Linked DNA regions of Homo sapiens. The protein of the gene in region 1 interacts with the protein of each later gene in a biochemical or structural test. Each region holds a gene or a part of one and is shown in the gene's direction. Other genes may lie near its edges.

Region 1 (7,857 bases):
TCAAGTTACGTTGTCAAAAGGCAGTATGTTCAAAATAAAGTTATCTGGGTAATATGTGATGTGGAAAGTGCTGTATGATATGGTTGAAAGAACAAGGCATGGCTGGGTGTGGTGGCTCACGCCTGTAACCCCAATGTGTTGGGAGGCCGAGGTGGGCAGATTGCTTGAGGCCAGAAGTTCAAGACTAGCCTGGACAACATGGCGAAACCCAGTCTCTACAAAAAATTAGCCAGGTGTTGTGGCGCATGCCTGTAGCCTCAGTTACTCAGGAGGTTGAGGTGGGAGGATTGCTTGAGCCCAGGAGGAGGAGGTTGCAGTGAGGGGAGATGACACCACTGTACACCCAGCCTCGGTGACAGAGAGAGACTTTGTCTTAAAAAAAAAAAAAAGAACTAGGCATGTTTAGCTGGGAAAGGGAAGCCTCAGGAAGACAGGATGGTTATCTTTAAATATCAGAAGGATTTTCAGTGAAAAAACCATTGTGTTTGTTTTCCAGAGAAGTTACTGAAATGCAGATTTTGATTCAACAAAAGGAGGAATTTATAACGGTTAAGTCAGTTAAGACCAAAAAGAAAATGGAAGGCCAGGTACAGAGGCTCACACCTGTAATCCCAGTACTGTGGCAGACCAAGGATAGAGGATTGCTTGAGTCCAGGAGTTCAAGACCAGCCTGGACAACAAGGCGAGACCTCATCTCCAGAAAAAGTAAAAAATTAGCCAGGCGTGGTGGCACACACCTGTAGTCCCAGCTACTCAGGAGGCTGAGGCAGGAGGATTGCTTGAGCAAGGGAGGTTGAGGCTGCAGTGAGCCATGATCATGCCACTGCACTCCATCCTGAGCAACAGAACAAGACCCTGTCTAAAAAAGAAAAGAAAGAACATGGAAACGACTACCGTGAGAAGTTCTAAGTTGTCTGTTATTCAGAATGTCCCCGAATAAGTTGATTAATAACTTTAAAAGCATTTGAATGGAGAGGGGATTTGGACTAAATCAGAAGTTTTCAAATTTCTTATAGCTAGGAAACCCTTTCCTTTAAATAAAGCTCAGTTACAAAACATATCAATGTGAAGCTATTTTGGTTGAAGTCTAAGTAGAATCCTTTTCTTATTATTTTTCTTCTCAACTAGATTCTGGAAAGTTGACAATAAAAGCTAATAGTTTTTATAATTTATATTTACAATGTATATCCCCCAAGGTGTATTACATGAGGTTTGATAAATATTTACTGAATGAATGAATGAACAGTTAAATATGTCAAATGTTATTTCTCTGGGGCATGCTTTCATTTTTAATAGACAGCAATCTTTTAACCAAAAGTCGAATTCCTCAAGTGAGTTCTGTTATCCTGGAGGTCCACAGATCCCTAAGGGGGGTATGTGAATGGGTCTTAAGAGTTGTGGGAACCTATTCAAATTGTATTGCCAAATTTGGGAGCATATGTATTTTTCTGGTAAGAGCAGCTATAGCTTTTGTCAGATTTTCAGAAGGGTCTATAACTCCCAAAAGTTAAGAAACAACCACTTAATTTAATTCAATTCAATTTAATTTTTTTGAGGCAGGGTCTCACTCTGTCACCCAGGCTGGAGTGCAGTGGCGCAATCTCAGCTCACTGCAGCTTCAACCTCCCTAGCTCATCCTCCCACCTCAGCCTCCCAAGTAGCTGGGACTACAGGCATGCACCACCATGCCTGGCTAATTTTTATTTTTTTGTAGAGACAAGGTTGCACTCTATTGCCCAGGCTGGTCTCTTACTCTTGGGCTCAAGTGATCCTCCTGCCTCGGCCTCCCAAAGTACTGGGATTACAGGTGTGAGCTGCTGCACCCAGCCAAGAAACAACTGCTTTAATGGAAGAATTGTAGGTATCTACCACAGCCTAATGAAATATGTATTTGGAGGCAGGAAGGTCTTTTGGACACTTCCCCCAAATCATGTAGCTGGATGTTCTCTTGATTGCAGAGAATAACTGAGGGGACAGACCTCAGGCTTTCCTGAATACACCGTACCCCCAGAGGATGGGAAGGTAATGGGGTTCCGTGATAATTGGAGAGGCTTTGTGTCTGTGCCCTGTGTATGCATACTCAGGCTCTCAAAATCAGTGACCATTTAAGTGGACAGACCTTAGTACATGAAAACAAAGTATTCACTCCAGGACTTTAGGCAACTCTCACCAGCCAAAAACCATTTTCCCAGCCCCTACCCAAAAAGGGCCAGACAGTCTGGAGACCCTTGTTTTTGTGTCTCTAATCACCAGCTCAGACAGTGCCCTCTGGGCTGTTTGGATGGCATATCCCTTTTCCCTCCCAGGATCACTCTCTCTTTTGTTGCATTGTGAGAAAATTATGGCTAGGAATTTGATCTGGAGCCAGAGTCAGCTTCCGGGTGTGATCTCAGCATCCAAGTGCGAGCTCAGGGTCCTATGACGTTGGGCACATCAAACTGAGGAGCTTTTTGTCTAGCTGGCTGTGACCTCCTCCCTCCCTCCCCATCCCAGCTTCCCGGCCACAGAATAGGGAGCAGTACAAACAAGGCCCTGAGATTTGGGTTTATTCAGCTCCACCCAAAACTAAACCAAGGCTATGACATGTCCCATGGGACCAAACCATACATTGTGGACCATGCACCTTTCCCTTCCCCCAAGGATGCTGCTACCTCTGGAGTGGTGGGCAGCTGCCCATATCACCTTGGGAGGTAGAGAGGGATTTGCTGGGTGCTGGGTCTGTGGCAATCAGGGCTCAACTATGGCTGCCTCCTCCTCTTCCTCTGGATCAGGAGGCGCAGGGAGCAGGGAGATGTAGACCTCATTGACCTCTGTGTCCAAATGTCGGCCACCCCGAGGTGCTTCCAGGTTTAAGATGCCATCATGGGAGAGAGCAGCTCGGACTCGCCAGGGGTCGACATCAGCAGGCAGGACATAGGTGCGGCAGAACTCTCGGGACACGAAGCCGTGGCGGTCCAGGCGCTGGGGGTGCCGGGCAGACACCTCCAGCAGGTTATCCACAGTCCTCACAGTCACCTCGTCTGGGGTAAAGTGGCTCACATCCAGAAATGCCTGGAACTTGCCCTCACTGAGCCTAAGCTCGGAGGCCCCTGCCCTGCTGCCCTCCCCAGCTGGGGCGGCCCGAGGCCGGACATAGTAGCCATGGTAGAGTGTGGGGGTCAGGATCTCTTCTGGCAGGAGGCCTAAAGGGCAGAGAGAAGGCAAGAGGCAGGATGAGGGAGGATGAGGCTGGCACAGGGGCGAAATGGGAAATCTGGAGAGGAGGGATTGGGAAGAGCAAGAGGGGAGTCAGGAGGAGTAGGGAACGGGAGGGAGGCCACACTGTAGCTAGGAGGAGAAGGCAGCTCGGAAGAGGGGAAAGAGAACGGAAAGGAAAGGGAGGAGGAGGAGGAGAAGGAGGAGGAGGGGGAGGAGGAGGAGGCACCAAACGGCCTGGGTGGATAGAAGGGGGACAAGGAGGCACACCCAGGCCGGCAAAGAGCAGGTATCAGCACTGCAAGCACCAAGTGTGTCTTGAGGTCAGCAGGAATGGGAAAGATCTCTGCTTGGAGGGGATGAGGGGTAGTCTGGGGTGGGGGGTGGCTGGTCCCAGGAGATCAGTTAAGCCCAGAGTGGGGTGGAGGCCAGCAACGTTGGGAGGTCAGCCCAGAATTTCAGGGGGTGGGGGTGGGGGGCAAGGGGGTGGTGTCTGTGCCATACCTTCTCCGAAGCGCTGCTCACCCAGGCGGCTCGGGTTGGCAAATTCGTACTCGGCGGTGGCCGGGTGGGCATGTGGCACTGAGCGGCCCGACATGGCTGCAGATGCAGCAGAAGCCCTGGTCCGAGGTGCAGCCCCAACAGGCGCAGCGCGACCCCTCCAGCTGCCCGGAGAGCCAGGGCTCGATAGGAGGTGGGGGCGGGGTCGACACCACCCAAAATAGTGCCGAGCCTCTTGGGGGGGGAGGGGCTGGGAGTGGGGGCCCTGAGTGAGAGCAACGAGGGTGTGACCAGCGCCGCCCGGACCCCTAGTCCCCTCCCCCGCACACTCTTCAGCTGTCGCAGGGGGCCTGAGAGGACAGCTGAGGGTCCTGGCTGGGAACGAGCTGGGGAGGGGGAGCTGGTGGTGCCTGGGGCATGAAGAGGCCTCGCTGAGACCCTCACAAACGGTTTGCACGTTTCCACACCTCATTTTCTCCTCTTCGGTGGCAGGCACTGTGCACCCAATTCCTAAAGCACTCCTGGATTTAATGTTCTGAGAGCCACATAGAACGAAAGATGCAAGAAATCTGTTTGCTCTTTTTTCAGGGGGTGGGGTCTTTCTGCCCAGATGTGGGATCCTCTCCTAAACCCAGGTCAACCCAGGGCACGAGGCAGATGGCTGGTGCTGACATGTTGACCATCACTGCTCTCTTCCAAGGACTCACAAAGAGTTAATGTCCCTGGGGCTCAGCCTAGGAAGATTCCAGTCCCTGCCCAGGCCCAAGATAGTTGCTGGCCTGATTCCCCTGGCATTCAGGACTGGAAAGGAGGAGGAGGGGCACACTACGCCGGCTCCCATCCTCCCCCCACCCCGCGTGCCTGCTTGGGATTCCTGACTCTGTACCAGCTTCAGAGAACAGGGGTGGGGGTGGGTGCCATTGGGTGTGGACAGAAAGCTAGTGAAACAAGACCATGACAAGTCACTGGCCGGCTCAGACGTGTTTGTGTCTCTCTTTTCTTAGCTCAGTGAGTACTGGGTATGTGTCACATTGCCAAATCCCGGATCACAAGTCTCCATGAACTGCTGGTGAGCTAGGATAATAAAACCCCTGACATCACCATTCCAGAAGCTTCACAAGACTGCATATATAAGGGGCTGGCTGTAGCTGCAGCTGAAGGAGCTGACCAGCCAGCTGACCCCTCACACTCACCTAGCCACCATGGACATCGCCATCCACCACCCCTGGATCCGCCGCCCCTTCTTTCCTTTCCACTCCCCCAGCCGCCTCTTTGACCAGTTCTTCGGAGAGCACCTGTTGGAGTCTGATCTTTTCCCGACGTCTACTTCCCTGAGTCCCTTCTACCTTCGGCCACCCTCCTTCCTGCGGGCACCCAGCTGGTTTGACACTGGACTCTCAGAGGTGAGTCTCCCCACAGCTAGGACGGGAGAGTCCTTACTGGAACCTCCTGGAAACTTCTCCATCCATTTTCCTTTCCTACCCTGCCTAAACCATTTTAGGCACATGTGTGTCCAAATGTGAAGAAAAATGAGGAGGTTGCTAGTGCCTTCCTCCCCCATCACCTGTTTCTATTTGATAGTCCTCTGTATCCCATTTATTACATTTTTTCATGCACTGTCAAGTTTATCCTCCGTCCCCTAACTTCTCTACAGGATACCCCTTTCTGGTTTGGTTCATGACAATCTGCAGGGAAAGAGCTGCCTTCAAACTCCTTTGCTTATCTCTTCCAACACCTTGGACTCTTGACCGATTTTACCATCTCAGGTTTCAGAGCCAGGAGAGAGCCCTGCCTCATCCTGAGCTGTTCATCCCCATGGGTATTTTCTGCCTTTCTATTCCCTCTTCTATGATTTTCTGGGTTTCTCAGGGCTACGACAGGGCGCTGGCCTGGGTCCAATCAAGCCCTACGAGGAAACAATATAGGGACGCCCATTTGTCCTAAGAGGGTGGAAGAACAGGGTGAACAAATAAGGTTGACAGAGCTGTCACAGATAACACTCTGGTTTAAAAATATTCAAGTGTGAGTAAACAGGAGCTGAGTGGGCAAGGGCTTTGGAAGGACAAGCAGGACCAGCAGAACATTCCAGATTGGGTGGGTGGAAAACTGGCAAAGAGACCTGAGCCAGAAGAAGAGGCCTTTGTCTCACAGACAAACCACAAAGCCAGGCATTGGAGTCAGAGAGGCAGCAGATGCCAGGCTTGCACCCATCCTTGCGACTGGTCCCCTGGGTGATCTGTCTTCTTCTCTGTCCCTGTAAATAAAGTTTGGGTCTGATCACCATGAGCCTTAGGTATCACTGTGGTGGCTCCCTGAAGCAGACAGCTATGTTTATTTAAAAAGGAGATTTTTTAAGCAGAGAAGAGAAGGATGAATTACCCGGACAGAAAGCAGCTCTGCAGAATAAGACAGCACCTGTGTAATCAGTATTTTTGCCCTCTTTCTCCCATCCCATTCCCTTACCTTGCTATTTCTAGATGCGCCTGGAGAAGGACAGGTTCTCTGTCAACCTGGATGTGAAGCACTTCTCCCCAGAGGAACTCAAAGTTAAGGTGTTGGGAGATGTGATTGAGGTGCATGGAAAACATGAAGAGCGCCAGGTATGTAGCTTGTTTTTTTGTTTTCTGCTCATTCATTCAGTGCATACTGTAATAGTCCAGGTAGTGCTATCAGCTTTGGAGGCTGGCTACATTCCAGTCCCAAGCCATAACAGTCGGGATCAGGGGTTACAAATCAATGTCTAGAAGACTAAGTTAGGATAGACATATTGCTGTTGTTACTATTATGGCCAGAGATGTGGCCTTTGATTTGATCGCCTTAGATGGGATGATGGGATGCTGATGCCCCATTTAAGCCAGTGGTTCTGAATCTGGGCCACATTAGAATCACCAGGGGAACTTTCAAAAAACCTAATGCTCGGGCATACTCCAGACCAATTAGCATATGTGCTGCCGAAGCGAGCACTACTCCAGACCAATTAAATCAGCATTTTTAAGGGTGGGACCCAGGCATCAGCAATTTTTAAGGTAATTCTAATCTACAGTCAAGGTTGAGAACCACTGATTAGGTATAGGGCTGTCAGACACCTAGTTGCTTTGCATAATTACATTAACTACAGGTACCCTAAAAGCACTTGAGTTGTGACTTCTCTTTTAGCTGTGCAAGAATCCGTGTCTCTTCTTTAGCCCATCTTAATGCTGAACTACTTGGTTTGTCTAAATTTCAGAGCTGTGCTCAGTCTTTAATCCCCTACAGCCCATGTGGTAATCAGTTAACGAGAGCCTGTTTGGCTACATGCTTGAGAGTCAGCAGGCATACGGGTTAAGGTCATCTACTCTTTGGGGGAGTTCTGACAAATGGAACAGCTTGTTATGACTTTATAAGAGGGCTTTAAAATTGCTTCTCACCATTTAACGATAGCTCAGAACCTGTGCGTCAACCAGTACAGTTTGTCCTCAGTAATGTCCTCAGGCTGTTTCAATTTTGCTTATATGATTTAGGTTTGGGTCATAGTCTCCTTGGATGGAGTCATTTTTTTTTTTTTTTAATTTCAGCAGCAGTCCTATTGTTCTGGAACCTTCTGGGACATTCCTGAAGAGTCAGGACAATTTCAGGGCTTCCTCAGGGACTCAGATTCTAAATGAGATTCCAAATTCTGTAGGCCCAGCCAACATTGATCTAAACCTTTGGGAAATACCCCTAAACATATCTATGCCTCAGGGTTTGAAAAACAATGAAGTGTTGGACTGTTTCAGACTTCTCAGATTCTCACTGGTAGGAGTGACTACCTAGGCAATTTCATCTTAGCTGCAACCCTGAAACGAAGCTCTATTTATTTTTCCTATGTTGTCATGGCATTTGGTCTCACCTAAGGGGAAATCAGGATGCCTGAGTTCTGGGCAGGTGATAATAGTTCCTGTTCTTATCTCTCTGCCTCTTTCCTCATTCTTTTGGGTTAGGATGAACATGGTTTCATCTCCAGGGAGTTCCACAGGAAATACCGGATCCCAGCTGATGTAGACCCTCTCACCATTACTTCATCCCTGTCATCTGATGGGGTCCTCACTGTGAATGGACCAAGGAAACAGGTCTCTGGCCCTGAGCGCACCATTCCCATCACCCGTGAAGAGAAGCCTGCTGTCACCGCAGCCCCCAAGAAAT
Region 2 (7,028 bases), about 42 Mb from region 1:
GCCCTGGATTGTTTGTCGCGCTGGATGGAGGGAGATTTGCTCCCTCACGGCCACCATGCAGTACCTTGGGCATTGGTGTGGACGGCTCAGCCTGCCTGTGTCCCGTTACTCTGGCCTCGTCCTTCAGGCCAGGCAGCCTGTGGCCACTCCATGCTGAAAGGGGTTTACCTTGGCCACAGGGCCGCCTCCTTTCTCCACCCACCTCCAGCCCTTCTTGTGTCCTTAAGGAGCCTGAGCTGCAGAGGCCCCCTCCTGGCCTCTCCCAGGCTGGGCCACCTGCCAGAGGCGCCTCCAGGGGCGGGGAGAGCTGTCGGCCTGCCTGCACCACGTGCTCTGGGCAGCCGAGTGCAGGGGTGTCCAGCAGAGGAGCTCGGCTGCCTGAGGCCCTGCCAGGGGTGCCGGCAGCCAGCCGGGCTCAGCTGAGCCCTGAGGGGGCGCTTCAGAGCACTCTCAGCTTGGGCCGCCACCGTGGGCAGCAGAAGCACCCAGTCCTCACTTCCCCTGGCATGGCCCCAGAGGCCCCTCCCTGACATGGCCTTGGCCCCAGAACCCAGTGGGGACAGACTCGCACATACACAGGGTGCCGCCTCCTGCTGTCCCCAGCCCTGCCTCTGACCCCCCTGTGACCGCCTCCTTCCCTGGCCCAGGAGGCCTGGTTACCTTCATGGGGGAGCATGGCCCCATCCCACCCAGCTCTGCTGTGGCCCACCTTTGGTCAAGCCTCAGTTGTCACATCTGTTTGGGGGCTCACTCTGGGTGACCTAGGCCACAAGGCCCACGGGGCATCAAAGAGGCAGTAGCATCTTCTCCCCTCCCCAGAGGGCAGAGCCCCCCAAGCCTACTTCAGAGCTCCCTTCTGACACCGGTAGCCCGCAGCCGGTATTCCAGAATGGGTTCTGGTTTAGGCGTGAGGCCTCCCCCACCTCCTCCACCTGCTTGGGGCATGAACCCCTCCCCCACGTTTCCAAGCGAGTCCCCAAGGTGGGCAGATGAAGATGCCAAGGATGTCGACCAGTCTGGATGGGTCTGGGGTGGGGGGGCATGCGGCAGACAGGGAGGCATTCTCTGGCTGGTGCTCCTCAGAGGAGAGAGGCCTCCGGAGACTCCAGACAGCCTTTTATGGAGCTGAAAGTGGCTTCAGAGAAATGCAAAGTTTCCTGGAGAGAACGTGGGGCGTGGTTCTTGCACAGCCTCCCTACAGGGTGGCTCCAGCAGTGGAGCTCCCCTCCCAGGACCCCTGGGTGCTAGTGGGAGGCAGTGGGCAGGTGCAGATTCTCGTCCTTCCCACTACTGCACACCCTTTGTCTGCGAAGGCGCCCCCAGCGGTGGGTGAAGGAGGAGGGACACTTGGGGACCCAGCTGTGCACGTGCTCTCAGTGACTGTGGAGTCCACTCCAGGGTGGGTCCCGAGGGAGGGGCAGGAGACCAGGGGACCCACCCCTGCAAAGTGCTCCGGGTCCTGACCCGTGGCCACCCCATGGAACGTAACTGAGCAGCCAGTGCCTTGTTCCTGCTGGACATCTGTGGAGACAAGAGTGACTTACGGCTGCTTAAAGTCAGAAACAGGTTGAAGGAGGTGGAGGCGTGGGAAAGAGTCTAGGAAGGTGTTTTTGCCCTCCACGTGGCAAAGGTTACATTTAAAGGTGATGCTGGGTGTTCTCCCTGCACTAGGCATTCCTGGCCCCAGGTCCCCAGCAGGTGTGCACATGCTGCATACACTCACGCATGGGGGTTTCAGGGCAGGTGCGCCCTTGGCTCCGTGGGAGGCCAGGTGAGGAACGTCCAGTGCCAAGGAGCTTCCGGGACAGCTGTCACTTCCCTTTACAACCAGGCAGCGGATAGGGTCAAATCCTGGAGCTTTGGTGTCTAATTCTGGGTGGCTCCTAATCTAAGCACAGACAGCACCACACACTGGGGTGGGGGCACGAGCTTCTGAAACAACGTGGCCCCAGTGACTCCACGCTGTGTGTGCCCCTGGAGACGGGGGGGTGCACAAGGTGCGGAGCCAGCTAGAACCTGTCGCTCCCTGCAGAAGCGGTTTCTGTGTGCGGTTCTGATTTGCCTCAATGAGAAGGTTTTCATTCATGGCTCCCGGCTCTCAGACTGGGTGGAACTGCTCCCATTTAAAGGGGAAAAGAGGTGGCTCGGCTCGTTAAGGATTTCTTTTTCTAAGTTGTTACGGCGCCCAGCAGCCGGCTTTGTCTCCCCTTCAGGGTGGCTGCCTTTCTTCCCGGCCCCTCGCCGGCGGCCCTCTCTTTAACAAGGCCGAAGTTGTTTATTCTCTCGGGATGAAGTCTCGGATGGGCCGCCACACCCCTGGCGGCCCGTGGGGGCCCCTCTCCCTTTGTGCCTGGGTCGGCTCCCATTCAGCTCCCCCGACCCCCCTTGTTCCCGGGCGCTCAGTGGCGCGAGATGAGGCGATGGGGCCGACAAAGATGCCACACTCATCCCTGCCGACGTCCGGCTCCCAGCCCAGGGCCCCTGGTTCCTGTGCAGAATTCCTCGTGGGTGTGACAAAAGGCTGCCCCCAGGCTCCGCTGGGGTGGGGGCCAGGCCAAGAGGCACATCCCACACTGGCCCACCTGTCCACGGTAGGCGCATGACTGCCCTGAGGAGGGGAGGCCGGCATTCCCCGCCACAAACCAGGACGTAATTGGTGGCAGGGCTCTCTGTGGAAAGAGCCAGTCTGCTGTTTGTCTAGGAGGTCAGTCACAGAGGCCCCGAGACGCCCACTACTGCAGCCTGGCAGGCGGATGAGCCCAGTATCTGGCAGTGACCAGAGGGAGTTTTGTGCAGACCACAAAGGCTGATGGGCCGCCCTAGATTGGTGTCCCTCTTGGAAGTGGGCCCAGATGTGCGGGACAGTCCCCAGGAAGCCCCAGGTGAGGGCACTGGTGCCCTCTTGGGAAAGCTGCTCCCTCCTGGGGCCCGGCTCCCGGCCCAGTCCTCCAGGGGTGTCCCATGGTGACTGGTGCTAGGAACCCCACACCTCTTCCCTTACTTGGGAAGTCACTGGAATTGTTGGGCTACATCAGACGGCCCAGAAAAGTGTTTTTGTCATCGGCCAGAAATAGGAGAGTTGTGAGTAGAGGGCCCGGGTGGAGTTGGGGTGTACTTGGTCTGTGCTCTGAAGGTCACTGTGACAGTCATGGTCCCATGGTAAGGGGCATGGGTTGCTGGAAGAGCTCTTCCTTCCCGAGTGAGCCAAGCCGGGCTCTCCTGGCGCCAGGGCCTGAGCCGCAGCCACACCACAGCCGCCCTGAAGGCTGCCGGCCAGGGCTTACCCCTCAAGGGACACGGAATGGCTTCATCAGTACCCTGCAGCCCCGTGGCCTGGCCCGGGTGGAGGCCTAGGCTTCAGCCATGCGATGTCCCTTCAGAATATGACTTGTCTGCAATCCCTGCTGCTGGGGGGTGGCAGGTACTTGGGGTGAGGGTTAGGGTCATAGAAGCGACATCTCTACGTCCTCATATTTGCGTCATCTAATTTTGTTTTTGTGAATACGTGATAACATTCACAAGGCTCAAGATGCTAAAAGGATGAGAAGGCAGTGATGTCCCCATCACCTGTCCTGTGTCTTCCCGTGGCTTTCTCTTTCCTTGGTTATGTTTGAGTCAACAGTGGGGCTGACGTTCCAGGAGGGTCCGTGGGCCAGGCTCTTGCTCTCCGAGTGCCCAGGGATGGCTGGAGGCTGAGGAGGGCCTGGATGTGGAGCCTCAGATACCGAGTGCTTCCCTTCAGGCCGGGCCGCTTGCTCAGAGCCAGCACACAGGGATGCCCGGATCACGGGGGCCCTGAGAGGGTCCCCTGCTCACAGCCTCCTTCCCTCTCTCCTTCTGCCTCAGATGTGAAGTTCATTTCCAATCCGCCCTCCATGGTGGCAGCGGGGAGCGTGGTGGCCGCAGTGCAAGGCCTGAACCTGAGGAGCCCCAACAACTTCCTGTCCTACTACCGCCTCACACGCTTCCTCTCCAGAGTGATCAAGTGTGACCCGGTAAGTGAGGGTGATGTCCCAGGCAGCCTTGCCGGGGCTTACAGGGGGAGACACCTAGTGCCACGGAAATGCCGAGGCTGGTGCCAAGGCCCCCAAGGGTGACAAGGTTGGGGCTGGGGCTGGGCCCCTCGGACCCCAGGCCACAGACTGACAGGGCACCGGCTTCTTCCACTGCTCCTAGAACTTACTGACTGGCTGGGAGGTCCTCACAGCCTTCTCACGTCCCCTGGGGCTTCCAGGAGCCGTAGAGTTTCTGGGCGAAGCGTCCGGGACGGAGGCCCCAGGCGGCCCCAGCCAATGGTCTGTGTGGTGATGGTGTGTGGGGTTAGGCCCAGGCGAGCTTTGTTTGGGCCACAATGTGCGTGGCCAATAAATAGATGCTTGAAAAGGGCTCCTGTGAGGTCCGAGACACCGGACAACGGGCGGATAGAGACAGCCTTGTTGTTTACGGCCTCTTTGAGAGGCTGCTGCTGTTAAACCCTGGGATGACTGTGTCTTTCTTCTTAAAAATGCCATTGTTTTATTCCCGAGTCTTTTCTTAAAGAAAGAATTAAAATGACAATCAAAAGGGTTTGTGGCATTTACCAAATTAGACCAGAGAGGTGGCCGGGTCAGCCGCCGGCCCCGCGGTGTGTGAGGGAGTGACCGCCTGACCCCAGCTTGGGGCTGGGTGGGCCTGCAAGACCCGTTTTGGCTCTGGCCTGGGCCGCCTCTTGGTGGTCTGCCCTCGAGCCTCCCGGGGACTCCGCACGGGTCTCAGCAGATGCTATCTAGGGTCCACCTGCCTGTCCCCTGCCTAGTGGTGCCTCTGTCCCGGGGACACTGGGAGTAGCGGCTGCCCAGCCCATGTGTGTCTCGGAAGAGGAAGAAGCTTTTTTGCCGTGGGACACCGAAGTTGGCAGGGGCCTCCCTTCTGTGTTCTCGGCCATGGCCTCCCTTGCACCCTGCCCCGTGTTATCCTTTGGGGGTGGTGAGGTGTCCTCACCCGCTGTAGGGTGGAGGCCAGCAGCCCGCAGCTCTCTCAGGAAAATGGCTCAGAAACACCATCGAGGCCTCCAGAAGCCCAGCAAAGAGAAAGCCCCTCCATCAAAATGAAACTCGCGTCTGCACTTTTCATTTCGAACTCCACGCCCTGAGTGAAAACCGCTTCCCCGCCAGGGGTGACTGCCCTGGGATGTTGCTGTCTTCGGGCAGTTGTGGGAAGTTGGGCGCTGGCCCTTATTTGAGTAGAGACCATCTTAACTAGATTGGAGGCACACGTCTCACAGCTGACAGACACACGGGGTGAAGTTACCCGAGGCGGAGTCCACTCTGCCTGATCAGCTAGTGACCAACGTAGCTGAGCCCAGACTCAGAAAAACCGTCCACAGCAGAGGCCCCTGCATTTTCTAGGGCGTGTTCTAGAATTTTCTTTGGTGGGTGGAATGTCCATCTGTGCAAATCGGGTGCGCAGTGCCACACACCAGTGACTTTTCGCGGAGGAGCGTGCTGCCTTTTTGGAGCTTCTGGCTGTGGGAGAACAGCTTTGTCCACCGGGGTAGCCTTGCAGGCAGCTGTGGGGCCAGAGGAATGAAGGAAGGTCCTGGAGTCTAGCTGCATGTGTGACCCTGGAGTGGGTCATGGGCGAGGGACGGGCCGCAGGTGAAGAATCCCTGGATGGAGCTGCCAGGCCCCTGGGGCTGAGAATTGAAGCTGGCTGGTGTTTTAGGTTGAACGTCAGGAGTCTTGTATCTCACCCCAGGCCTCTGGCCTCAGTTTCCCCATCTGTACAGTGGGACTGTTTGTGCAGCCAGCCCGGCCAGCTTCATTTGCCATGATGAGAATTTATCTGAGGGGCGGGAGAGGAAAGCCCTCCCTATAAAGGTACAGGCGCTAAAATGTCGTGACCTCAGTGGTCCACCTAAAAGTCGTTCTGGCCTGGGTCATCGCCTGTCGTGCTATGCCTTTGTCCAGCCCCTTCTGGTTGGGAGTTAAGTGGCACCTGTGCGGCACGTGGTGGGGCTGTGGCCCAGCCCTGCTCCTTGTGGAAGGTCTGTTTCCTGGGCTGCCTAGAGACTTGGCTTGAAGCCCTAGCGTGGCTTCCTGGCAGTTGGGACACACACAGCCCCAACACATGGAGCCGGTTCTCCATCCAGAAGCCCCCGGGCAGTAAGCAGCCACTTCAGGCTGCGTGGGACTTGCCCGTGGTGGAGCCTAGGAGAGGCCCCTGGCTGGGCGTGGCGTTCCAGATTTCACGGCTGCTCTTTCCCACTGACAGTGTGGTGTGGACGCTGCCAAGGGAGTCTGGAGCCCCAGAGGGTGGAGGTGCAGGACTTCCAGGAGCGTCCGTCGCACTCCACCCGAGGGCGAGCACCTCAGTGGCCGCAGTGGGTGGATGCATGCTGTGCCAGGCTGATGGCTGGCCCCGGGGCACAGGCCTGAGCGGGAGAGGATGGAGGGGAGGGATCAATGGTCCAGGTCCCCCTGGCCACCCAGCATTCATCCTCAGTCATGCACGGCCCAAGGCTTCGACAGCCATTGATCATGGAAGGCCAGGTTCACCTCAAGGGCTGCCACATGGAGAGGTTAAGTCTGAAAAGGCTGAAAAGGCAGGGTTCAAAGGGCCTCCTGTCCAGATCAGATGGCACTGAATTCCCCAGGGAGCTGGCACGGCCAGTGGGAACAGGCGGTGAAGGCGCTGTTGGACATGGGGACGGGCAGGGGGTGTGCAGGGTGGGCGGGCAAGCATCTGGTGTCTTGTGGCTCCAGAGACCAGGTGGGAGGTGGAGGCATTTGGTCCTGAGTGTCCTGACAGGTGATGGCAGCTCCCACATCTCGCTCAGGTTCAGAGGAGGCAGCATGGGCCGAGGGACAGTTTTTGGCTTAGTCTTGCTCTTATAAAGGCTTCCGGGTCATGGCACCTGGGAAGGGGCCCTCGCTGCAGGCCCCTTCTAAGGACCCCCTCTTCCCACCTCTCCCCACCCTCTCTCTCTCAGGACTGCCTCCGGGCCTGCCAGGAGCAGATCGAAGCCCTGCTGGAGTCAAGCCTGCGCC
Region 3 (5,160 bases), on another chromosome or scaffold:
TGTTATTCTCTACTTTCAAACATACTCAATATATAACAACCCATCATATAACTAACCATCAACCCAAATAGCCCCAATTCATGGAGGACAGACGATATCCCTGCCTAATTCTTCTTTGCTGATAATTCCTTTTTTTTTCTCCATCTTGCTCCTCTTCTGTCAGTTGATTTATGAAGACTCTATGGATCTAATCGCAAAGCTACCTTGTGTTGCAGCAAAGATCTACCGAAATCTCTACAGAGAAGGCAGCGGTATTGGGGCCATTGACTCTAACCTGGACTGGTCTCACAATTTCACCAACATGTTAGGCTATACTGATCATCAGTTCACTGAGCTCACGCGCCTGTACCTCACCATCCACAGGTAAGCTAGACCCAGCAACCACAGCCACTAGGTGCCTCAATTGGTGGGAAATTTTTTTAAAAGCTCCTTTATGTTCTCATCTTCTGAGAACAGATGATAGGCAGCAAGAAGACAGAAACGTGGCATAAAGGATGATCCAAGGCAAGAAAGGGGTCTAGTAAGCAAGGTCAGGAGGCCTAAAGAAATTACTGTAACCATGCTAAGAACAAGATGGTGCTTCTGGCTGGGAAAAGGTACTAGCTGCTCACATTAGATGGTCCTTCAGCTTTCCAGGAGCTCGCTCTTTGGGGCCATTGCTATTAAAGCTAGGTTGGAGTCATGGAGCAGAGCATACAGGCATCATCAACCAGTAACCTCTCCAGCTCTGTGGATGAGTGAACAAAAGCTGGTAATGAGATTAGGATGCTTTTTTTTTTTTTTTTTTTTAGATGGAGTCTTGCTCTGTCGCCAGGTTGGAGTGCAATGGCGCAATCTTGGCTCACTGCAACCTGCACCTCCAGGTTCAAGTGATTCTGCTGCCTCAGCCTCCCAAGTAGCTAGGACTACAGATGTGTGCCACCATGCCCAGCTAATTTTTGTATTTTTAGCAGAGACGGGGTTTCACCATGTTGGCCAGGATGGTCTTGATCTCTTGACCTCATGATCCACCCGCCTTGGCCTCCCAAAGTGCTAGGATTATAGGCGTGAGCCACTGTGCCTGGCCAAGATTAGGATGTCTTTTACAAGAGTTTAGGTATAACTGACTGGCTATAGGCTGGCATGAGCCCATAACTAGGCTAGTAAGTGGCAAATAAGAGAACAGCAAAGTTTCCATAATCTGCCCCTTCTTTCTTCCCTTGGCTCTCCCTTCTTACTTCCCCACAGTGACCATGAGGGTGGCAATGTAAGTGCCCATACCAGCCATTTGGTGGGCAGTGCCCTTTCCGACCCTTACCTGTCCTTTGCAGCAGCCATGAACGGGCTGGCAGGGCCTCTCCATGGACTGGCAAATCAGGTAAGACTATTCTTTTTATTTTCCTGCTACATGTTTTCCTTACCCCATGCTTTGTTTCTGATCTTGGCATTCTCTTCTGGCATATGTATTAACATTCCCTTTTTCCCCAAACCTTACCCATAGGAAGTGCTTGTCTGGCTAACACAGCTGCAGAAGGAAGTTGGCAAAGATGTGTCAGATGAGAAGTTACGAGACTACATCTGGAACACACTCAACTCAGGACGGGTAAGCAGAGATGCTTAACGACTAGGAAAGAAACCAAGACACAAGTTCTGCAATTTGGAAGAATTAAGAAAAGAATGAAAGAGGTCCCTAAATTAGAGATTTTTTTTTCTTCATTTATCTACCTTGAAGAATTTAGAAAAGAATTTCTAGGTGGGCACAATGGCATGCACCTGTAGTCCCACCTACTTGGGAGGCTGAGGCAAGAGGATTGCTTGAGGCCAGGAGTTTAAGGCTGCAGTGTGCTAAGATCACTCCTGTGAATAGCCACTACACTCCAGCCAGGACAACACAGCAAGACCCCATTCTCTAAAAAACAGTTTTAAATAGGTTGAGTGTGGTGGCTCACGCTTATAATCTTAGCACTTTGGGAGTCCAGGGTGGATGGATCTCGTGAGCCCAGGAGTTTGAGACCAGCCTGAGCAACACAGACCCTATCTTTTTTTTTTTTTTTTTTTTAAAGACAGTCTTGCTCTTGTTGCCCAGGCTAGAATGCAGTGGCGCAACCTCAGTTCACTGCAACCTCCGCCTCTCGGGTTCAAGTGATTCTCCTGCCTCATCCTCTCGAGTAGCTGGGATTACAGGCATGCGCCACCATGCCCGGCTAATTTTGTATTTTTAGTAGAGACGGGGTTTCTCCGAGTTGGTCAGTTGGTCAGGCTAGTCTAGGACTCCCAACCTCAGGTGATCTGCCCACCTCAGCCTCCCAAAGTGCTGGGATTACAGGCATGAGCCACCGCACACGGCCAGACCCCATCTTTACCAAAAAAAAAAAAAAAAAAGCCAGATGTGTTGGTGTGCACCTGTGGTCCCAGCTACTCTGGAGGCTGAAGTGGGAGAATTGCCTGAGCCTGGGAGGTCGAGGCTGCCGTGAGATGTGATCATGCCACTGCACTCCAGCCTGGGTGACAGAGTGAGATCCTGTCTCGAAAAATAAAAGAATTTCTACTGAGAATACTATCTTTTTTCCTCACTCTTTACAGGTTGTTCCAGGCTATGGCCATGCAGTACTAAGGAAGACTGATCCGCGATATACCTGTCAGCGAGAGTTTGCTCTGAAACACCTGCCTAATGACCCCATGTTTAAGTTGGTTGCTCAGCTGTACAAGATTGTGCCCAATGTCCTCTTAGAGCAGGGTAAAGCCAAGAATCCTTGGCCCAATGTAGATGCTCACAGTGGGGTGCTGCTCCAGGTAAGTCCTCCTTTCCCTCTTTTCCCTCTAATTTGTACCAAACCCTATTGTTATCTGCCATGCACAAAGTCAATTAACTCCTAGTCAGAGCAGGGACTTCCCTCACAGAGCATTTTGATAAAGTTGACTATGAGAGGGTTGGGGGTTGGGGTTGCTCTGTTTTCAGAATCCCAATTGCTATACTTTTCTCAGTGTCATTTCTATTTAAGGTTGACTGGGCTAAGTCCTTGGAGAAAAATGGAAAATTTAGCTTTTAAGGTTTCTATCACCTAGGACTTGTACATGCCACTGCCTCTGCCTTAAATGAAATATTTTTCTCTTCTACCTTACAGTATTATGGCATGACGGAGATGAATTACTACACGGTCCTGTTTGGGGTGTCACGAGCATTGGGTGTACTGGCACAGCTCATCTGGAGCCGAGCCTTAGGCTTCCCTCTAGAAAGGCCCAAGTCCATGAGCACAGAGGGTCTGATGAAGTTTGTGGACTCTAAGTCAGGGTAAAACTGGAGACTGGGTGAAAGTGACTACCAGAAAGTGAGGAAGCCTAAATAAAAAGTATACTTTTGTTTCAGGGGGCCTTTAAAGACTTAAGATTAAATTATATCTGAGGCACTGATAATATGTTTGAGGTTAAAATATAAATTAAGACTTTAAAAGATGAAAAATGGTCCCTTCTTCCCTAATCAGCTCCCTTCCCCTGCCTGGTATGAGTTGCCCATCATACGCATGGTCCTGGAGGATGACCAGGACTAATGCATGTGGTATGAGTAGGTTTGGCCCCCTCACTATCTCTAGAGTGAGAATCTGGCTCCTGTTTCCATGGGTCAAAGCCGGTTGCAGAGAATCTGTAGTCACTTTGGAGCTTTAGCTTCTCTGCCAAGCCCTCAATAAGCCAGCAAACCAGGACTCTGCCCCTTCTGTTTCCATAGGAATCATGTTGGATAGTCAGCTGTACCAAGCCCCTTGGCCCTCTCCCATGCACACAAACACCTCCTAGCAAGACCTGTTGGTTAGCTGGACATGCTTTGGCAATTTTTTTATACTACCAAGTGACCATAAAGGCATGGCATTTGTTGTGACTGGCACCCAATGTTTGATTTTTTTTTTAAAACTATCCAATTAAAATTAAGGTCTGGGAGTGTTCTGTTTCCCATTACTTTAATACTCACCTCCTCCCAGACTTTCTACACCTGTTGCACCTCAGGCAGAGGATGTTCTGGACCTCCCCCTCTTGGTCCCTACTAGAGACCTCTCAACAGATCTGTGGGCCCAGTCATTGGGTTTTATCAGTGCTTAATGTGAACTAAGTTTTTTACTTCCACAGAATACAAGCCACTACCTTCTGACCTCCCCACCCCCCACCAACCCCCATCTTTTAATATGCTGTGGGGCATAGAACTCCGGAATGACCAGCATGATATTTTCAGAGTCTTGTCCCCGGGGTATTAGCACCTCTTTTTGAACAGGGAATTGATTCAAGATTGGACATGGTCTCCTCTGATTATCAGGTACTGGGGCTGAGGGCATTAAAAATAGTAAGCCTCCCTCCTCGTCCCCTGCCTCAAGAAATTGCCTCCTTATTTATCAACATCTTTTTCCTCCCTTTCCCTGAGAGCTCACAGTACAATGTTTCAGAAGCCCCATTTGCACAGGTTTTCAGCAACTCAGAATGCTCTACTTCTTTTTCTTTGAGAAAGGATTAAGATACACTCCTGCTGTGCCCCCATCTTTCCTCCAAACTCCTGCCTGTGTTTGTGTGGATACCCAGTCCCAGAACCACACTGTTGAGTTGGACACACTGTAAACCCCTGGGTAACTGTCAAGTCATGATGGAGACTTCAGGTTGTTCTGTATAAAATGCAAAATAAATGTTTTTATTAACAATGCTTGAGCCTATTATTAAATAAGGCCTGGAAGAACCTTTATTATGAGGTAAGGAATCTGGCTAGCAAGATCCTGAACTTAGTGGGTTATAAGTAATCTGTATCCATTTATCTTTAGGCAGGTTTGGCTTTCTTTTACCTTAACCAGAGGAAAGCCTCCCTGAGAAATTTCCAGAGGAGATTTCTGTCCTTCCTCAAGGTTAGGAAGTCCTTGATGTTTAGCCCCTAACCTTGCTAATTTTGTTGTAAGGTAACATACTCAAGGGCTATAGCTGAGATTCTCAATTGCTTATGTGACTAATCCAAGAACTGGTCTAGCCCACTGAGAGAAAGGAACAAACTACCAAGGACGAATGGGCTAGTACTGCTACCTCAGGACCAGAGCCACTAGAGGGCTCTGGTACTTCTTGGAGTGCCTGCTCTTTATAGCTTCCCTGAAGGAGGTCCCAAAAATAACAAGAGGTGGTCCTGAGGGCATCACATATATGGGAGGTCCAAGACCA
Region 4 (7,028 bases), on another chromosome or scaffold:
CTTACTCCTTACCAGCTGTGTGTTTTTTGCAAGATTCTTCACCTCTGTGTGATTTAGCTTCCTCATCTATAAAATAATTCAGTGAATTAATGTACACAAAACATCTGGAAAACAAAAGCAAACAATATGTATTTTATAAGTGTTACTTATAGTTTTATAGTGAACTTTCTTGTGCAACATTTTTACAACTAGTGGAGAAAAATATTTCTTTAAATGAATACTTTTGATTTAAAAATCAGAGTGTAAAAATAAAACAGACTCCTTTGAAACTAGTTCTGTTAGAAGTTAATTGTGCACCTTTAATGGGCTCTGTTGCAATCCAACAGAGAAGTAGTTAAGTAAGTGGACTATGATGCCTTCTAGGGACCTCCTATAAATATGATATTGTGAAGCATGATTATAATAAGAACTAGATAACAGACAGGTGGAGACTCCACTATCTGAAGACGGTCAACCTAGATGAATGGTGTTCCATTTAGTAGTTGAGGAAGAACCCATGAGGTTTAGAAAGCAGACAAGCATGTGGCAAGTTCTGGAGTCAGTGGTAAAAATTAAAGAACCCAACTATTACTGTCACCTGATGATCTAATGGAGACTGTGGAGATGGGCTGCATTTTTTTAGTCTTTTCCAGAATGCCAAAATGTAAACACATATCTGTGTGTGTGTGTGTGTGTGTGTGTGTGTGCGTGTGTGTGAGAGAGAGAGAGAGACTGAAGTTTGTACAATTAGACATTTTATAAAATGTTTTCTGAAGGACAGTGGCTCACAATCTTAAGTTTCTAACATTGTACAATGTTGGGAGACTTTGTATACTTTATTTTCTCTTTAGCGTATTAAGGAATCTGAGATGTCCTACAGTAAAGAAATTTGCATTACATAGTTAAAATCAGGGTTATTCAAACTTTTTGATTATTGAAAACTTTCTTCATTAGTTACTAGGGTTGAATGAAACTAGTGTTCCACAGAAAACTATGGGAAATGTTGCTAGGCAGTAAGGACATGGTGATTTCAGCATGTGCAATATTTACAGCGATTGCACCCATGGACCACCCTGGCAGTAGTGAAATAACCAAAAATGCTGTCATAACTAGTATGGCTATGAGAAACACATTGGGATAAATCGGCTGCTATCATAATCATTCCTCTCCCACATCAGATAAATGAATTAACTTTTTGAATAGGGTTATTTAATATAAAGTGCTTAAGTCTAATTATGAGAAGAAATAAGATAATTACACTTCAATGGTTAAAGAGAGGGAGAATAATTTGCATATTATGCCTGATGTAAAATGTTTATTATGGGTACATATTAAGTGCTAACTAATTGTTAATTGTTCTTGCTACAAGTCTTAATGCAGGGAAACAAGAAATTATTACATAGTACCTAATATTATCTTCTAATATTAAAGAAACAATTTCCCCTAAATTCATCCCATTAGCTTTTTTTTTTTCGGTGGGGCAGGGGAGAAATACAGACTTCAGTAAACTTGGGCTGGGAACTTTCTACCTACAAAGTTCAAATAAAATAAATTATCCTAGTTAGATAATATCAATGAAAAATCCACCAACTTAAATCCTGGCTGTTTGATCTCAGGAAATTATTTCAGTTATCAACTTAATGCATCATATTATAGAAATATATGAAAATGTGTTTAATTAAACTTACTGAATGATATGTTTTTTCAGGTACTTTAAAAATAAACTATGATATAAAGTTACCTATTTTTCATGCAAGTATAGTATAAAGAAATTTCTAACACTGGAGATTTTCTGAAGGTTTTGATTCTTATAAATTTATTACATCATAATGAACAAAACTAATTTTCAACATATTATGATTTAAATTTCCTTAGTAAATTGTTTCAAATTTATTTTCTTTAAATCCATATTTACATATGTATATTTAAATATACATATTTACTTGTATAACAATTCAAAACCATATATTAATTTTATAATTTTGTTTAATGTCAAAGGTTAGATTTGGCTATATCTATTCTAAAAGTTGGTATCACATTTCCTTTTTGGAATTTTATTTTTAAAGTAGCTAAAGTCAAATATAAACCTATTATTTATATTAATGCAGACATTAGAGGTAGACACTAAATTCATTTTAGTATATTCTAAATTATTTATTATCTACTATGAAATAATATAAAGAAAAATAAAGCAGAATCCCTGATTTCAAAGAACTCAATTGCCGAAAAACAGTTACCATTTATTAGACCCAAAATGTACTAATATGAGTGTGTCTCTTTTCCTTTTGTTTTGTCACCCGTCATTTGGAATGTCAGTGAGTAGAGAGATAGTGTGAAAGGCCCTCAAGGGGAAAAATAGAGGTTAAAGGTCAGCAGAGACCCTACTAGAGAAATCAGTTCTACAGAAATGTTTTTAAATGTGTCGATTATTGCTACATGTACACTCTGTCATTTTGTAATGTAGCCATTTTATTTATGATTATAATAATAAAACAACAAAATTATAATAATGTGTAGAGTACATTTTACTGTGCAGTGTATTGCATTAAAACTAGATTAAAATTTATACATATATAAAAGGCTATCTAGATATTATAAAATTTATGGCTGGATCTGTAAAAAATTCAAAACCTATTTTTAATCTCGCTTTGAGATTTTATAACAAGAAAATGTTCGTTTCAAGCAAAATTTTCAATTCACGTCCTTGAAAAGGAAAAAAATGACAACTTGAAACACATAATTGACTATTTTTAAAGGATCAACATTTCAGAAATGTTTTAAAACATAAGATTTTCAGTACAGCTTTTCGCTGGCATTTAAATCGAACTTTGAATTGTAAATAGCTCTTGCTCTTAAGGAGACATCAGCCATATCCTTAGAAGTGGCACGGAGTTGTTAGGTAGTTGTACAAAATTCTAGCCTAAAAGACAAATAGGGAGCAACACTACTGTGGACCGTTTCTGGTCTTGGGCTGTGTGGCTATGTCAGGCTTGCCCACATTGCCTGTACTAAGGAGAAAGCCTCTTGTCCTTACAGACCCCCTTAGCTTACATAGTCTATTTGAAAACAAATTGCTTTGTCCACACCATTTAAATATTGGCTTCAGGCCAGGCGCGGTGGCTCACGCCTGTTATCCCAGCACTTTGGGAGGCTGAGGCGGGCAGATCACGAGGTCAGGAGATCGAGACCATCCTGGCTAACACGGTGAAACCCTGTCTCTACTAAAAATATAAAAAAATTAGCCGGGTGTGGTGGCGCGCACCTGTAGTCCCAGCTGCTGGGGAGGCTGAGGCAGGAGAATGGCCTGAACCCGGGAGTCGGAGTTTGCAGTGAGCCGACATCGTGCCACTGCACTCCAGCCTGGGTGACAGAGCAAGACTCCGTCTCAAAATAAATAAATAAATAAATAAATAAGTAAATATTGGCTTCTTCAACTGGTGAGATGAAACCTATACAATAGTCATGTGAATAGCACTAAACAGCTGACATGGTGTAACTCCTCTCAGACTGAGGCTTATCTGGGGAGTACAAAGCATGTCAAGAAAATGTGCCTTCATTTCCTTAGATGAGTGTCCCCATCCTCCACTCTCCTCCACTGTTCTCCTCTCTGCTTCTATGATATCAACTTTTCTTTTTCTTTAGATTCCACATGAGTGAGATCATGTGGTTGTTTGCCTTTCTGTTTCTGGCTTATTTAACTGAACAAGAAAGTTTTTGACATGAAATTAAACTTCTGCTTGTAAACTCAATTCAAACTATTTACACTGTCTTCTCAAAAATGTTAACTTATTTTAATAAATCTACTGAATGACCGTATCTCATTTTGTTTTATGAAAAGAAATTGTAAGGGTGCTCAATAGCCTCTTCATTTTCATACTGTCTAGCTCCTGTGCTCCTATTAAAATTACTGCAAATTTAGCTTTTTAAGAACCCTTTGTTTCACTACCTGAAGTTCTATAAAAAGATCCAAGTTCCTTCACAACCGTTTCTTATGCTGTTATTCGTACATATGTGATAATACCACGTCTGAACACGTAGATAATAAGTAGGGGCTGGGTGCGGTGGATCATGCCTATAATCCTAGCACTTTGGGAGGCTAAGGCGGGTGGATCACCTGAGGTTAGGAGTTCGAGACCGGCCTGGCCAACATGATGAAACCCTGTTTCTACTAAAAATACAAATAATAATAATAATAATAATTAGCCAGGTGTGGTTGTGGGCACCTGTAATCCCAGCTACTCGGGAGACTGAGGCAGGAGAATAGCTTGAACTCAGGAGGCGGAGGTTGCTGTGAGCTGAGATTGTGCCATTGCATTCCAGCCTGAACAACAAGAATGAAACTCCATCTCAAATAAATAAATAAATAGAAGTATGTATTGTGTTGCTTAGAAGGTGTGGTGGAAATTAACTTGCTGAGTGAGATCAAAGGATTGGCACTGAATTGAAATAAAGAAATATTCATGCTGAGTCTGGTTCAAATATAACTGCACCTGTAAGAATTGCTTTCTGTAAACTTTCCATAGTATAAACCAAATCCAAATCACTCATGGCTTTACATTCCTGATCGTTAAACTTGAAGCACTTTTTAATACTGCATGACTTTAGCCAAAATATCTTAGCCAAGATTCAATGTTTGGTTGAACCACACTCACTTGGACATCTTGGTGGCTTTTGTTTCTTCTGACCACTCAGTTATCTATGGCATGTGTAGATACAGGTGTATGGAAGCCGATGGCTAGTGGAAGTGGAATGATTTTAAGTCACTGTTATTCTACCACCCTTTAATCTGTTGTTGCTCTTTATTTGTACCAGTGGCTGAGAAGACCAAAGAGCAAGTGACAAATGTTGGAGGAGCAGTGGTGACGGGTGTGACAGCAGTAGCCCAGAAGACAGTGGAGGGAGCAGGGAGCATTGCAGCAGCCACTGGCTTTGTCAAAAAGGACCAGTTGGGCAAGGTATGGCTGTGTACGTTTTGTGTTACATTTATAAGCTGGTGAGATTACGGTTCATTTTCATGTGAGGCCTGGAGGCAGGAGCAAGATACTTACTGTGGGGAACGGCTACCTGACCCTCCCCTTGTGAAAAAGTGCTACCTTTATATTGGTCTTGCTTGTTTCAGGCATTAACCCAGATAAATGCCATGCAAATTTTATAATTATTATGATTGTTTCAATTTCTGGAAGAAAGTTAATGAAACAAAAAATGTAGTAAAATGCCAAAGGAACAGTGACATTTCAGAAAGAATGAGGGCTTTCATGTTAATTGTAAGTCTTGGAATTTCTCTTCCTTGGAGTAACAAATCCCTTTGTGCCTAATTTCCTAATTTCCAAAATAAAGTTCTTTTACTTATTTCTTTATAGTGACATCATCTCTTATTAAATGGCATATCTGCATATTACATAACAGTTCATTGCCAAATACATATTTGTGGGAAATGAGAGACTTAAAATACATACCAACCAGAGATATAGTTTTGAGGTAGATTTTAAAATTCTGAGAAGAATTTTGACTGAATTTTTTTGACAAACATGGGACACGAATAAGATTATACCAAAGATATTATAACTTTCATTTTAAATATGGAACTAATACAGTATGAGGTGTCAACAACGTTGAAGTTTCACAAACATCACCACTACAACAGCAAAATAATTTTTGCTTTTTCCCTGCCACAATGACCTCCTTGCTATTTCTTGAATAAATCAAGCATACCCTTGCCCTGACACGTTCTTGGGGAGGCCTGCCCTAATCTATATAAAATTGGAGCCATTCTTCTCACCTCTGGTATTCCCAGTCTCCCTACTTTTTTTCCTTCTTTCTTTCTTTTTCTTTTTCTTTCTTTCTTTCCTTCTTTCTCTCTTTCCTTTCTTTCTTTTCCCTTCCTTCCTTCCTTTCTCCCTTCCTTCCTTCCTCCCTCTCTCCCTCCCTTCCTTCCTCCCTTTCTTTCTTTCTCTTTTTTCTTTCTTGCTTCCTTCCTTCCTTCTTTCCTTTTCTTTCTTTTTCCTTTCTTTGCCAAAGTGTTATTCACCTTTAAATATAATACATAATGTGCTTACTTTAATGTATGATTTTTATTTTATTTCTCCCTTCTAGAATGTAGGCACCATGAGAGTGAAATATATTTATTTTGTTCATTGATATTTCACAAGTGTCTGGGAGAGTTTCCAACTTACAGTAGACAATTAACAAACATTTATTAAATTAAGGAGGGAAGGAAGTGAGTAAGCACAACAACTTTCATTTCTGGGTCTTTTATAATCATATGCTTAGTATAAGAACAGTGCTATTCAGCTATCCAAAAGTTACAATCAAAATGATTTTGGATGAATATCTTGAAAATTGTGAGAAAGAAGTTTTATTTGCTGGCAAACTATTCTGGGTTGTTTCCACTTCATGTAATCCTAAGTAGCAGCCTTACCTTGATAGCCCATTAAAACTCTGATAATAAAAAGGCAGAACAAAAATATCTGTGATATATTTAGATTTACTACATGTACTTACATGTCTAGTGTCTGGTGCAATGGATGCTAATGATGGCAAATCCTTACTGGGCTTCTAGTGAAGTTCTTCAGCTAATGTTTGAATGCATGGTTGGTCATGGTGGTACCCCTTTGTACAAAATATGCTTTTCAAATAATCTTATTAGGGATAATAATTATATTAATTCCTGGTTTCCATCTAAAATTTTAATTCTATTTATAGCTTCGTAAGATTTCACAAGTTAAGAGGGACCTCAGATTAAATTAGTACACAGGCAATTAATCAGTTTTGTGTCTCCGACCCTTTTCACGGGCTAATAGAAGCTATAGACCCTCTTAGCTTCAGAAAAATGCGCACTCACATACGCACATCAAAGAGCTTAATGGGAAGTCCATTGACAGACCCTCTGTTCAGATCAATCTTCTGATTGTAGAGATGAGGAAACAGAAATCTACAGAGGAAGTGGGTAGTCCAAGATTGCACAGTCATTTGGAATAGACTGGACACCAGTAGTACTTTTCCAGCCACTATATCACTTCCCCAAGCACTTCCTCAAAACTTACCTTCCT

What was found.
Region 2: of the proteins of CRYAB (region 1) and CCND1, one has a biochemical effect on the other in vitro, tested with the Homo sapiens proteins (2 studies listed by BioGRID, with this or other methods).
Region 3: the proteins of CRYAB (region 1) and CS form a complex in vitro, tested with the Homo sapiens proteins (3 studies listed by BioGRID).
Region 4: the proteins of CRYAB (region 1) and SNCA form a complex in vitro, tested with the Homo sapiens proteins (4 studies listed by BioGRID, with this or other methods).

What each region holds. Positions count from the first base shown.
Region 1 is NC_000011.10:111,908,766-111,916,622, reverse strand, and holds the start of CRYAB (alpha-crystallin B chain), read left to right. Parts: upstream 1-4,852; 5' UTR 4,853-4,898; coding exon 4,899-5,099; intron 5,100-5,869; exon of another isoform or gene 5,870-6,173; coding exon 6,174-6,296; intron 6,297-7,655; coding exon 7,656-7,857. Other genes in the region: HSPB2 (heat shock protein beta-2), read right to left, coding at 2,728-3,182, 3,700-3,793. UniProt on the Homo sapiens protein: May contribute to the transparency and refractive index of the lens. Has chaperone-like activity, preventing aggregation of various proteins under a wide range of stress conditions.
Region 2 is NC_000011.10:69,644,148-69,651,175, forward strand, and holds part of CCND1 (G1/S-specific cyclin-D1), read left to right. Parts: intron 1-3,846; coding exon 3,847-3,995; intron 3,996-6,970; coding exon 6,971-7,028. UniProt on the Homo sapiens protein: Regulatory component of the cyclin D1-CDK4 (DC) complex that phosphorylates and inhibits members of the retinoblastoma (RB) protein family including RB1 and regulates the cell-cycle during G(1)/S transition.
Region 3 is NC_000012.12:56,271,199-56,276,358, reverse strand, and holds the end of CS (citrate synthase, mitochondrial precursor), read left to right. Parts: intron 1-163; coding exon 164-363; intron 364-1,227; coding exon 1,228-1,357; intron 1,358-1,480; coding exon 1,481-1,582; intron 1,583-2,562; coding exon 2,563-2,772; intron 2,773-3,104; coding exon 3,105-3,275; 3' UTR 3,276-4,660; downstream 4,661-5,160. UniProt on the Homo sapiens protein: Key enzyme of the Krebs tricarboxylic acid cycle which catalyzes the synthesis of citrate from acetyl coenzyme A and oxaloacetate.
Region 4 is NC_000004.12:89,820,152-89,827,179, reverse strand, and holds part of SNCA (alpha-synuclein), read left to right. Parts: intron 1-4,791; coding exon 4,792-4,934; intron 4,935-7,028. UniProt on the Homo sapiens protein: Neuronal protein that plays several roles in synaptic activity such as regulation of synaptic vesicle trafficking and subsequent neurotransmitter release.